Linked DNA regions of Homo sapiens: region 2 is linked to region 1. Evidence: fine-mapped expression QTL. A gene starts in region 1. The other region holds a variant in brackets. All regions are shown on one strand. Distances are from middle to middle. Region 1 holds the start of LINC03082 (long intergenic non-protein coding RNA 3082). Region 2 has its middle 25 kb from the start of LINC00396.

The links. PIP is the estimated chance that this variant, and not a neighbour inherited with it, causes the effect. A credible set is the group of variants that fine-mapping cannot tell apart.
Region 2: its variant is the best candidate, but not a certain one, in a credible set for the expression of LINC03082 in amygdala (GTEx, PIP 0.81).

The regions. Positions count from the first base shown.
Region 1 is chr13:110,126,995-110,131,395 of GRCh38, reverse strand. It overlaps LINC03082 (long intergenic non-protein coding RNA 3082), which reads left to right and starts at 2,260. Exons shown (of 3, transcript NR_187462.1): 1 at 2,260-2,539. RefSeq lists an enhancer at 3,682-4,401.
Region 2 is chr13:110,026,371-110,030,771 of GRCh38, reverse strand. It overlaps a transcript of LINC03082 not described here. Among named protein-coding and RNA genes, the nearest start is that of LINC00396, 25 kb to the left of the region's middle. The variant T/C (reference allele first, on the strand shown) is at 1,907.

The DNA.
Region 1 (4,401 bases):
TGACCAACCTGGAGAAACCCCATCTCTACTAAAAATACACAATTAGCCGTGTATGGTGACACATGCCTGTAATCCCAGCTACTCGGGAGGCTGAAGCAGGAGAATCGCTTGAACCCGGGAGGTGGAGCCTCCTCCCATCTGCCCCCTCCCTTGGGCTTTCTGGAGGGATGGACAAAGTACAGTATTAAGGCTACTGCTTCTCTCTGTGCAAACAGCCCTCTTCCCATTTTAGGAAGGGAGTTGTCTATGCTGGAGAGACCCCCATGAACCAAGGAGCAGCTCAAAGCGAGCTTCCATGTCCTTCCAGGGGTCTGCGGATCTTCTGCTACTCTTTTAGCATCTCTGCTCTCCTCCCCTTCCCAGGCTCTGATAGAACCCTGAGGGCCTCACTTCCCTTGCTCCTGGACTTGCAACTAGGAATACATTTAAAAAGTCTCCTCCAGAGGAGCACAATTCCAGCTAAGCCGTTTGTTGTTGCTGTGAGCCGAGATCACGCCATTGCACTCCAGCCTGGGCAACAAGACTGAAACTCCACCTCAAACAAAACAAAACAAAACAAAACAAAACAAAACAAAACAAAACACTATGGGGCTGCCCTCCAGGGCCATGGATAAGACTTCTTCCCCCTCTCTGCAGCCCTGAGGCTGGTGACCCCTGGTTTAGTGGACTAAACATTACTGCTTTTCCTAAACTCTGCCCCTATCTTGGTAAAATGTCCCTTCATCCTAAGGTCCTTAATGTCAGCTGTTCGCTGCAGCATCCTGACTAATGCACAGCTGAGAGGCAGTCAGAAGCCAGCAACAATGAGGGTGATTTTAAAAGACCATGACGAATGTGTACACAGAATACTCAGTGGCCCCAATCCCATACAGGTGCTGAAGGTGGGCTACGAACTGCACACTAAGGTTCTGTAGGGAAATGAATTAGGATTGGTGGTAGATTTTCCACTGAATCTTCTTGTAATACAGTTCTCTAAGTGCTTCCCTGTACCCACAGTTCTAAATGATCTTCAGTGGAGCGTATTTGTCTGTGTGTGTGCGTGGGTGCCTTAATACTTCTGGAAGCATCCTCTTAACCCACTGTTTTCATTTATACACATATCACCTGTTTCATGGCTAGGACTTGGTAGGATTAGACATACATGGGCCAAAGGTAACTTCAGTCAGACCCTGTTTAATTATAAAATGGCAGAGTAAAATAGATCTAATATGTCAAGGGACACACCTTAAAGCTTATCCAGCCTGAAGAACATTAATGGTAAGTAGAAACAAGCGAACAAAGAAAACCTTTTGAAGTGGCAACAGAGGGGAGGGGTGGGTGCTGGCTCCTACTGAGTTGAGGACAGAGCCATTCCTCTCACTGATGTGCTTCTTCCCTGGAGGTGAGTGTGGGGTGCATGTGGGTGTGCGTGGGGTGGATCCCATGCTGGTGCCAGGACTGCCAAAGTGTGCGTTGGTGGGAAAGAGAAGGAAGGGAGAGCAGGATCCAGTGTCCATTGTGCTGATTTTTTGTGGACACAGAAATGAGAAGGCAGAGAAGATGTCCAAGTCTTCTGTAGGAGAGCTCACCCTCTCCTGGGTAGTTAAGGTCAACCACACTGCATCCGGATCCTGCCAGGAACTTGGAACGCCCAGAGGGCTGGCAGCGACGCAGTGCTGGACATTCCCACCCCACCCGGGCTGCTGCGCTGGGGGCAGCCGGATCCACAGAGATGCAGAAGATGTTGTGGGAAGAGACCATGGGAGAGCCACAGAAGCAGAAGCGCCTCCCTCCCCACTCCCTGCACACCCACCCCCTAAGCTGGGAGCGCCCAACATGCAGCCAGAAAAAAAAAAATCGTTGAAGGCCGGTTCACATCTACTGCCTAGAGAGCAAATCCTCACTGATGTCAATTTCACGTATATGGAAGTGAATATATTCACTTCCTAGGCTGCTGAAACGAAGTGCCACAAACTGCCTGGCTGAAAATAACAGGAATTTGTGTCTCACCATTCTGGAGGCTGGAATTCTACGATCAAGGTGATGTCAAGGCCAGACTGTCTCTGAGGCTCGGGGTAGAAGCTGTCCTGCCTCTTCCCGGTTTCCGGTGGGGCCAGCGGTGCTCGCGGATGCTCCTGCAGGCTTGTACATGCGTCGTCACAACCTCCGCCTTCAGCCACACCCCGTGTTCTTCTTGTGTGTCTCGGTCTTCACGTGGCGTGCCTCTTTTTTATAAGGACAGTGGTTTTATTGGATGCGGGGCCCACCCCATTCCAATGTGACCTCGTTCTAATTAATTACATCTGCAAGGACCTTATTTCCAAATAAGGTGACATTCTGAGGTCCTGGGGGTTAGGACTTCAACATCATTTTTGGAGAAAACCATTCGACCTTTGACAATGCCCAAGTAAAACGGTTTCATTTTTAGCGAGTGGACGTTCGAGTTCTCTATTTGAGGCATTTTTCTCAAGGATTTCTAACAATAGCTCACGTTATAGGTTGCGTTTATTTTTCACCATAATGATTTTTAAAATGTCAAAGCCTTGGCCCAACGACATGGGTGAGTTTGTTTTTATTGTTAGAAAGGATTCTATGCTGCTTTCAAATGTCTGCAGGTTTATTTTTAGCTGGACAGGAAGTGCATCTTACGCTTATGTTGGTTTGTAGGCTGCCCCCTTTTTTGGAGGAATGTTATTGTTAGAAAACCACGTTCAGTTTGGAGATGAGTTTGGATTGAGCACCACGCAAATCTAAGTTATAATTATACTACTCTCCGCTATAGATTTTCCAAAATAATCTTTCTGTTCATCAGAATTTGAAACCTTTCAAATAATGGTTCCGTTTGTTATTCACAATTTCACAGCCCAGCAGCTGCCTTTTATTTGTCTTTAAATGAAAGGTCAAGAGGTTTTGATGTAACCTGGGGTTGAATTGAAGGTAGCATGTCCATGTAGTGAGATGTAAAGTGAAAAATAAAAAAAAAAAAACATAAAAATGCTATGTCGTGACCACAAGATACCAGAATCATTCTTATTTGTTATGACTAAACATCCAGTTATTTCAAAGGGAGGGAAATAGTTCAATCCAGAGCTTACCTAAATTTTTCATTGTTTCAGCAAAGGGGCTTGTGATTTGGGGGAAGTTTAGTTCTTAAGTAGAGGACCTTTCCATCAGACAAGCTGCTTGTATTTGTTGCTGGTGCCACGGATAAGCTAGTATTTCAGAAGAGAGCAAGGTAATCCCATCCTAATGCCGTAATGAGGGTCACAGTGAGGTACGGGAAACGGTGGGACTTTCCACCTAAAAATATCTGCCAGCAGTTATATTGTCAGTTGGCTGTGATCTCCACCTCCAGCAGTGAACCTTCGGGGAGGAGGTTCTTTGACCTTCCTTGGTGTGATTGCCTGGGGAAAGTGATCATTTCATGGAATCGTGTCTGTTTCTCCATCCTCTTCTTTGAGGGACTTCTGAATGAATAAGGTATCACTCTCACACCCCAAACCAACACTTTAACCCTCTGTTGAAATACTATTTAAAGGATGGTTGCATGAGGATGGATTCTATTTTTGCCTGTGACCAAACACAATGAGTCTTAAAAAATAGCCTAGATTTCTTTCTGCTTTGCCTTGAGTGATGATTACAAACACCCCAGCCTTCCACGTTGGTAAGGGCCACTCTCAGGTTCACTAGTATATCTGATGGTGACCACTTACTAAGGTGCCTCCTGTGAGCCGGGCACATATCATGTGTGTGGCACGTCCCATCTCATTTACTCCTTACAACAGCCAGATGAGCTACAACACCCAGATGGTGCTCCCTATATCGCCTTTACAGAGAGGTGACATGGTGGTATGGAGGTAGCCAGGAAAAACCGCGCGGAGGCTCCGACCATCCATCTCTTTGCTTTAGGCCTGGGATCACTTGCAGATGAACCATCTGCCCCCTCCCTTGGGCTTTCTGGAGGGATGGACAAAGTACAGTATTAAGGCTACGCTTCTCTCTGTGCAAACAGCCCTCTTCCCATTTTAGGAAGGAAGCTCTTTATGCTGGAGAGACCCCCATGAACTAAGGAGCAGCTCAAAGCGAGCTTCCATGTCCTTCCAGGGGTCTGTGGATCTTCTGCTACTGCTTTAGCATCTCTGCTCTCCTCCCCTTCCCAGGCTCTGATAGAACCCTGAGGGCCTCACTTCCCTTGCTTCTGGACTTGCAACTAGGAATACATTTAAAAAGTCTCCTCCAGAGGAGCACAATTCCAGCTAAGCCAATCATCCATTCGAACCTTCATGTCTTGGGTTATCGGTTTTCTACTGCAAGGGACGCACCTCGTTCCTTGGAGGGTTACATGGGGTTTGTTGATGGTGTAATCAATTGCCCATGTGATTTGGAAAGACAAACTCGGCGGGTTGAAGCAGGATGTATCCT
Region 2 (4,401 bases), 100 kb after region 1:
TCAACAATAGTCCATTAAGCAACACACTTCTGACTGTGGGCAGTGGCTTTTGGAGTTATCACTAATTGTGAAACTCCAGAAAGGACAGGGCTAATGTCTTTGGATAATGAAGGTCACCTTCTAATGACACATGAGCCTCTCTGGCCAGTCCCGTGTCTGGTCTGGCCCCCAGCTTACTGACTTGTAAGGATGGTTTGCACTTCGGTTTCGTCTTTCAGTTCCGGGGTTGTGCACCTGTTGCTTGCTCAGGAAGTTTTGTGTGATAATTTGTGGCCCAACTGCTGACTTCCGTGCCCATCACCAATGGCTATGGCCAGCACACTCCTGGTCCAAAGTGGTAGGAAACTTGGTCCAAAGTGGTAGGGGAAGCTTGAGGATTTAGTTTATCTTTCTTTCTAGAGAAGGCTACTTGCATATTAGGGAGTACCGACACTCTGGTGTGAATAAACAGACACCAAACTGAACTCTTTAGAGCACTGCTGGGGCTATTTACTCTACTTAAATAATTTTGTAAAACTAGGCTTGTTAAAATGGACACTAAAATAAAAACCCCTTGAGTTTCTTTGATAAGGAGAGTATCCTGACCAAAGCACCCTTTTCAAGTCTAACCACCTGGTAGATGCAGGAACATCCTTGTAGATTCAGCATCTTTTCCACTGTGTGTGGTTACAGCCATGGAGAAAAAGTTACATCCCTGTACTTCCACTGATTTTTTTCTTTAATAATACTTTCCGTGTTTTAGGATGTTAGATATCAGAGATTTCACAAGCTCTGACTGTAATAGGAGAATGCATAATGTGAATTATGCACTGCAGAGGTGAGTACACAAGTTGGCTAATGATAGGTTACATGGCTTGCAATTTGGGAGCCAGAAGCAAGTCAGCCCAGGGGATCCCTGTGGTGTGGAGCAGCTCTGTGTCTTGACTATGGTCATGGGTGTACAAATATAGATGTGATGAAGCTGTATAGAATTAATACGCATACACACACACACACAGAGTACAAGTAAACCTGGGGAAATCTGCATAAGACAGGTGGATTGTCTCAATATTAGCATCCTTGTTGTAATATTGTACTATGGTTTTGAAAGAAGCTAACATTGGGGTAAAATGAATAAAAAGTACATGGGCTCTGTCCCTATTATTTGTTACAACTGCATGTGAATCCATGTTTATTTCCATAAAAATTTTAATTTATGAAAGTTAGATTTACCTCCTAAATATAATTTTAAAATCTCTAGATGTTACCAAAACAGTGGGCGAAATATTATCTGATAAAGCACAAAAGTGCAATCGCTCTCTTAATTACTTTAACTGTGGATAATGTTTTCCAGACTGTTCTACGGATGGGCATGAAAAATCAATTAACATGCACTCCTGTTAGGCTGAAAGATGGTATCCCTATCCCATGGAAGTCTTGGGGCAGATAAGTGAAGACATTTGAACATTTAGAACTATGCTGCTGAAACAATTTCAAATTTTTTCTGATTATAAACATGAAATCAACCATAAAGAAGAAAAAATCTATTATCCCAAGATTCAGAGATGACCATGGTTAACACTTTATTATAGTTTCATCAGTCTTTTTCTCTTTTCAAATATATATTTACTTATAATAAGTGTTTCCCCGTTTTCTAGGAAACCCTCATAAACGTTTCCACGGCTTTCTGAAGCACATTCAAAGTGTGGTTGCACAAGTCTGGTACTCTCACAGTGCACATCTGTGTGGCTGTCAGGCTGGTGTCCATGCTGATGGGCTGGCATGTGTTCCAACTGGACATGCCATGCTTTATGAAATACAGCTAGGAATTATTTTGAATATCACCCCTGGATTGTACTATTTGGATTAACCATCTCTTTGATGTTGGGTAGGAAAGTTGTTTCGAAGTTTTCATTATGATAAACCA[T/C]GCTGTAATGGAAATATTTTTGCCTAATGCCTTTTCTGAATTTTAGGTTATTTATTTAGGATAGATTCCCAGGAGTAGAATTAATGGATAAAAATGTATGACTGTTTTTCAGGCTTTTAATATGCATTGCCATATTTCTTTCCAAAAAGGGTGCAGTCTTCAGACATACAGACTGTGCAGGGGTTTCCAACAGTAGGCAAGCTCTCTCTCCTCTTTGTCTCAACTTTTCTGACGTTATAGCTAAAATTTGATACATACCTCGTTGCTTTAATGTGAAATGAGGTCAGGTATTTTCTTAAATGTTTGTTAATGACATTTGTGTTTTTCTTGCTTATGAATTGCTTACGTATATACTTTGTGTATTCATTGGGACAGGGGCCAAATCACGCCACACTAATGTTACTTGTCATGAATATTTGGATATTAATGGCTTTCTTTATTGAGAACTTTAGTACTTTGTAATACTTAAAAGTGTGAGAGACTGGGGACATTCAATTCTTTTTTGTAAACTTAACTGTCATCTTCTTGCTATTTCCATGTTGCATTTAGAATACAGATACCCCTTGACTTACAGTGAGGTTAAAATCTGATAAACCCATCATAAGTGGAAAACACTGTGAGTCAAAAATGCATTTAATACATCTAATCTAACCACCATCTCATAATCTAGCTTACTTTAAACATGCTCAGAACACTTACAATAGCCTACAGTTGGGCAAAATCATCTCACACAAAGCCTGCTTTGCTTGACTATCTCATGTGACGTATTGAATACTGTGCATTATGTCAAAGTTGCGATGGTTTCGTGCCATTGTGAAGTTGAAAAATTGTAAATCAAACCATCATGAGTCAAAGGCTGTCTGTGCAGTGAGGAGAGTGAGGTTTGATGTGAAGCCCAAACTACGGGCAGTGAAGGAGTAAGCGTGTATGTGGTGTTATCCAAGTCCAGGCTGCCATCTCAGTGCCCCAATCCTGGCTGATGCAAGGACACACTTTAAGAGAATAAAATCCACTTTCCGAATCCCCAACCCACCTGTCTGTACCCTGCTTACTCCTTTCTGGGCCCTCATCCTCTCCCCTCTCTCCTCTCCACAAAGAGCACATTGAGAATATGCACTCTCAGACCCCATTGCCTATAAGATGTGGAGTTTTAAAGCATTAGTCTCTGTTGGAGATTTTGCATGTCAATAGATTCAAGTCCCTACAACACACTGGAGAAACAGAATGTGAACCTTTAGGCGGCAGCTGAGAAATGAAGCAGGATTTGGAGGTTGCTCAATTGTTCTTGAGTCAACTCTCCAAGACCTAATGATTGGAACCCAGTTGGTAATCACATCATGAGAATGAAAGCGTGATTCTATACAATGACACTTTACATATTAATATGTTCATGCCACTGATGATCACATCAAGTGCCAGAAAAAAAAATTTGTCACCAGATTTCTCTATTCTCAAGTCATGTCTCTAATTCTTGAACCCCAAAAAAGTAAACAAATATTTATTTTTCCGTATGAATAAGGACATTTGGGAAATTGTGGTCTTAGCTCTGTATTTGTAAACTGTTATGACTCACTCGTTATTGCATTAGGCCTCAGCATTAAAAGCTGCCCAGATATTTACGCTTAGTACATCCCCAAAGTACAATACATGAACTTCTTTCACCAGTTGGAAGCAATAGCAGAAAATATGTAGGATTTAATGATGACCTTTCTCTATACCTTGATTTTGGCCATGGAGTAAATAGATGGAAATGACAGTGTCTTTTGCCACTTCATTTCTTCCTAAATGTCCTGCAAGTCTCCCTGGAGGTGCTGCTTTATCTGCAGAACTTTTCCAGGCCCAACTGGGTTATGGCCCCTCCAGGTATAACACACAATACTGTGTCTGGGCGGCTGTCTGCAGGGAACAGCATGTGGTAGATTTGGGGGAACTCATCTGTACCTCTATTTGCTGTCTCCCCAATGTCTCGGGGACCATGTCCTGCTCACTGCTCTGTCCCTGGAGCTATAAGCTCTTCTGGTATATAATGGGCACAAAATGAATATTTTTATCAGTGAGTGAATTTAGTGGTAGTGTGTGCCTGCAAAGACCGAGCCTGAGTCAGAAGCCTGCTCGGCAGGGCTGGGGGTGCAGCCCTGGAGGGTGGGCCTCCCCAGCCAGCAGACCCCACCTCACTCTCTGCATCATTGTCCTCACCAAGAGCACTGTGCTGCTTCCTCTGGGGAAGCCCAGCAGTGGACATTAGATGGCTGCCACCACCCTGTAGAGTTTTACCTAAAAACTTCTGTATCTTGGGTGAGGAGGTATTTTTTATTTTTTGTTTTTTATTGGTTTTTGTCTAGGAGGACAAATCCTAGCATATGTCACAAGAAGCTTGACATGGAAAGGACTCTTAAGTCCATTAGGCTTAATCAACATCCTATATCCATCACAGAGTGTATGTCAGGTGTTTTAATAATTTTTTAAATTGACAATAACTATATTTATGGAGTACA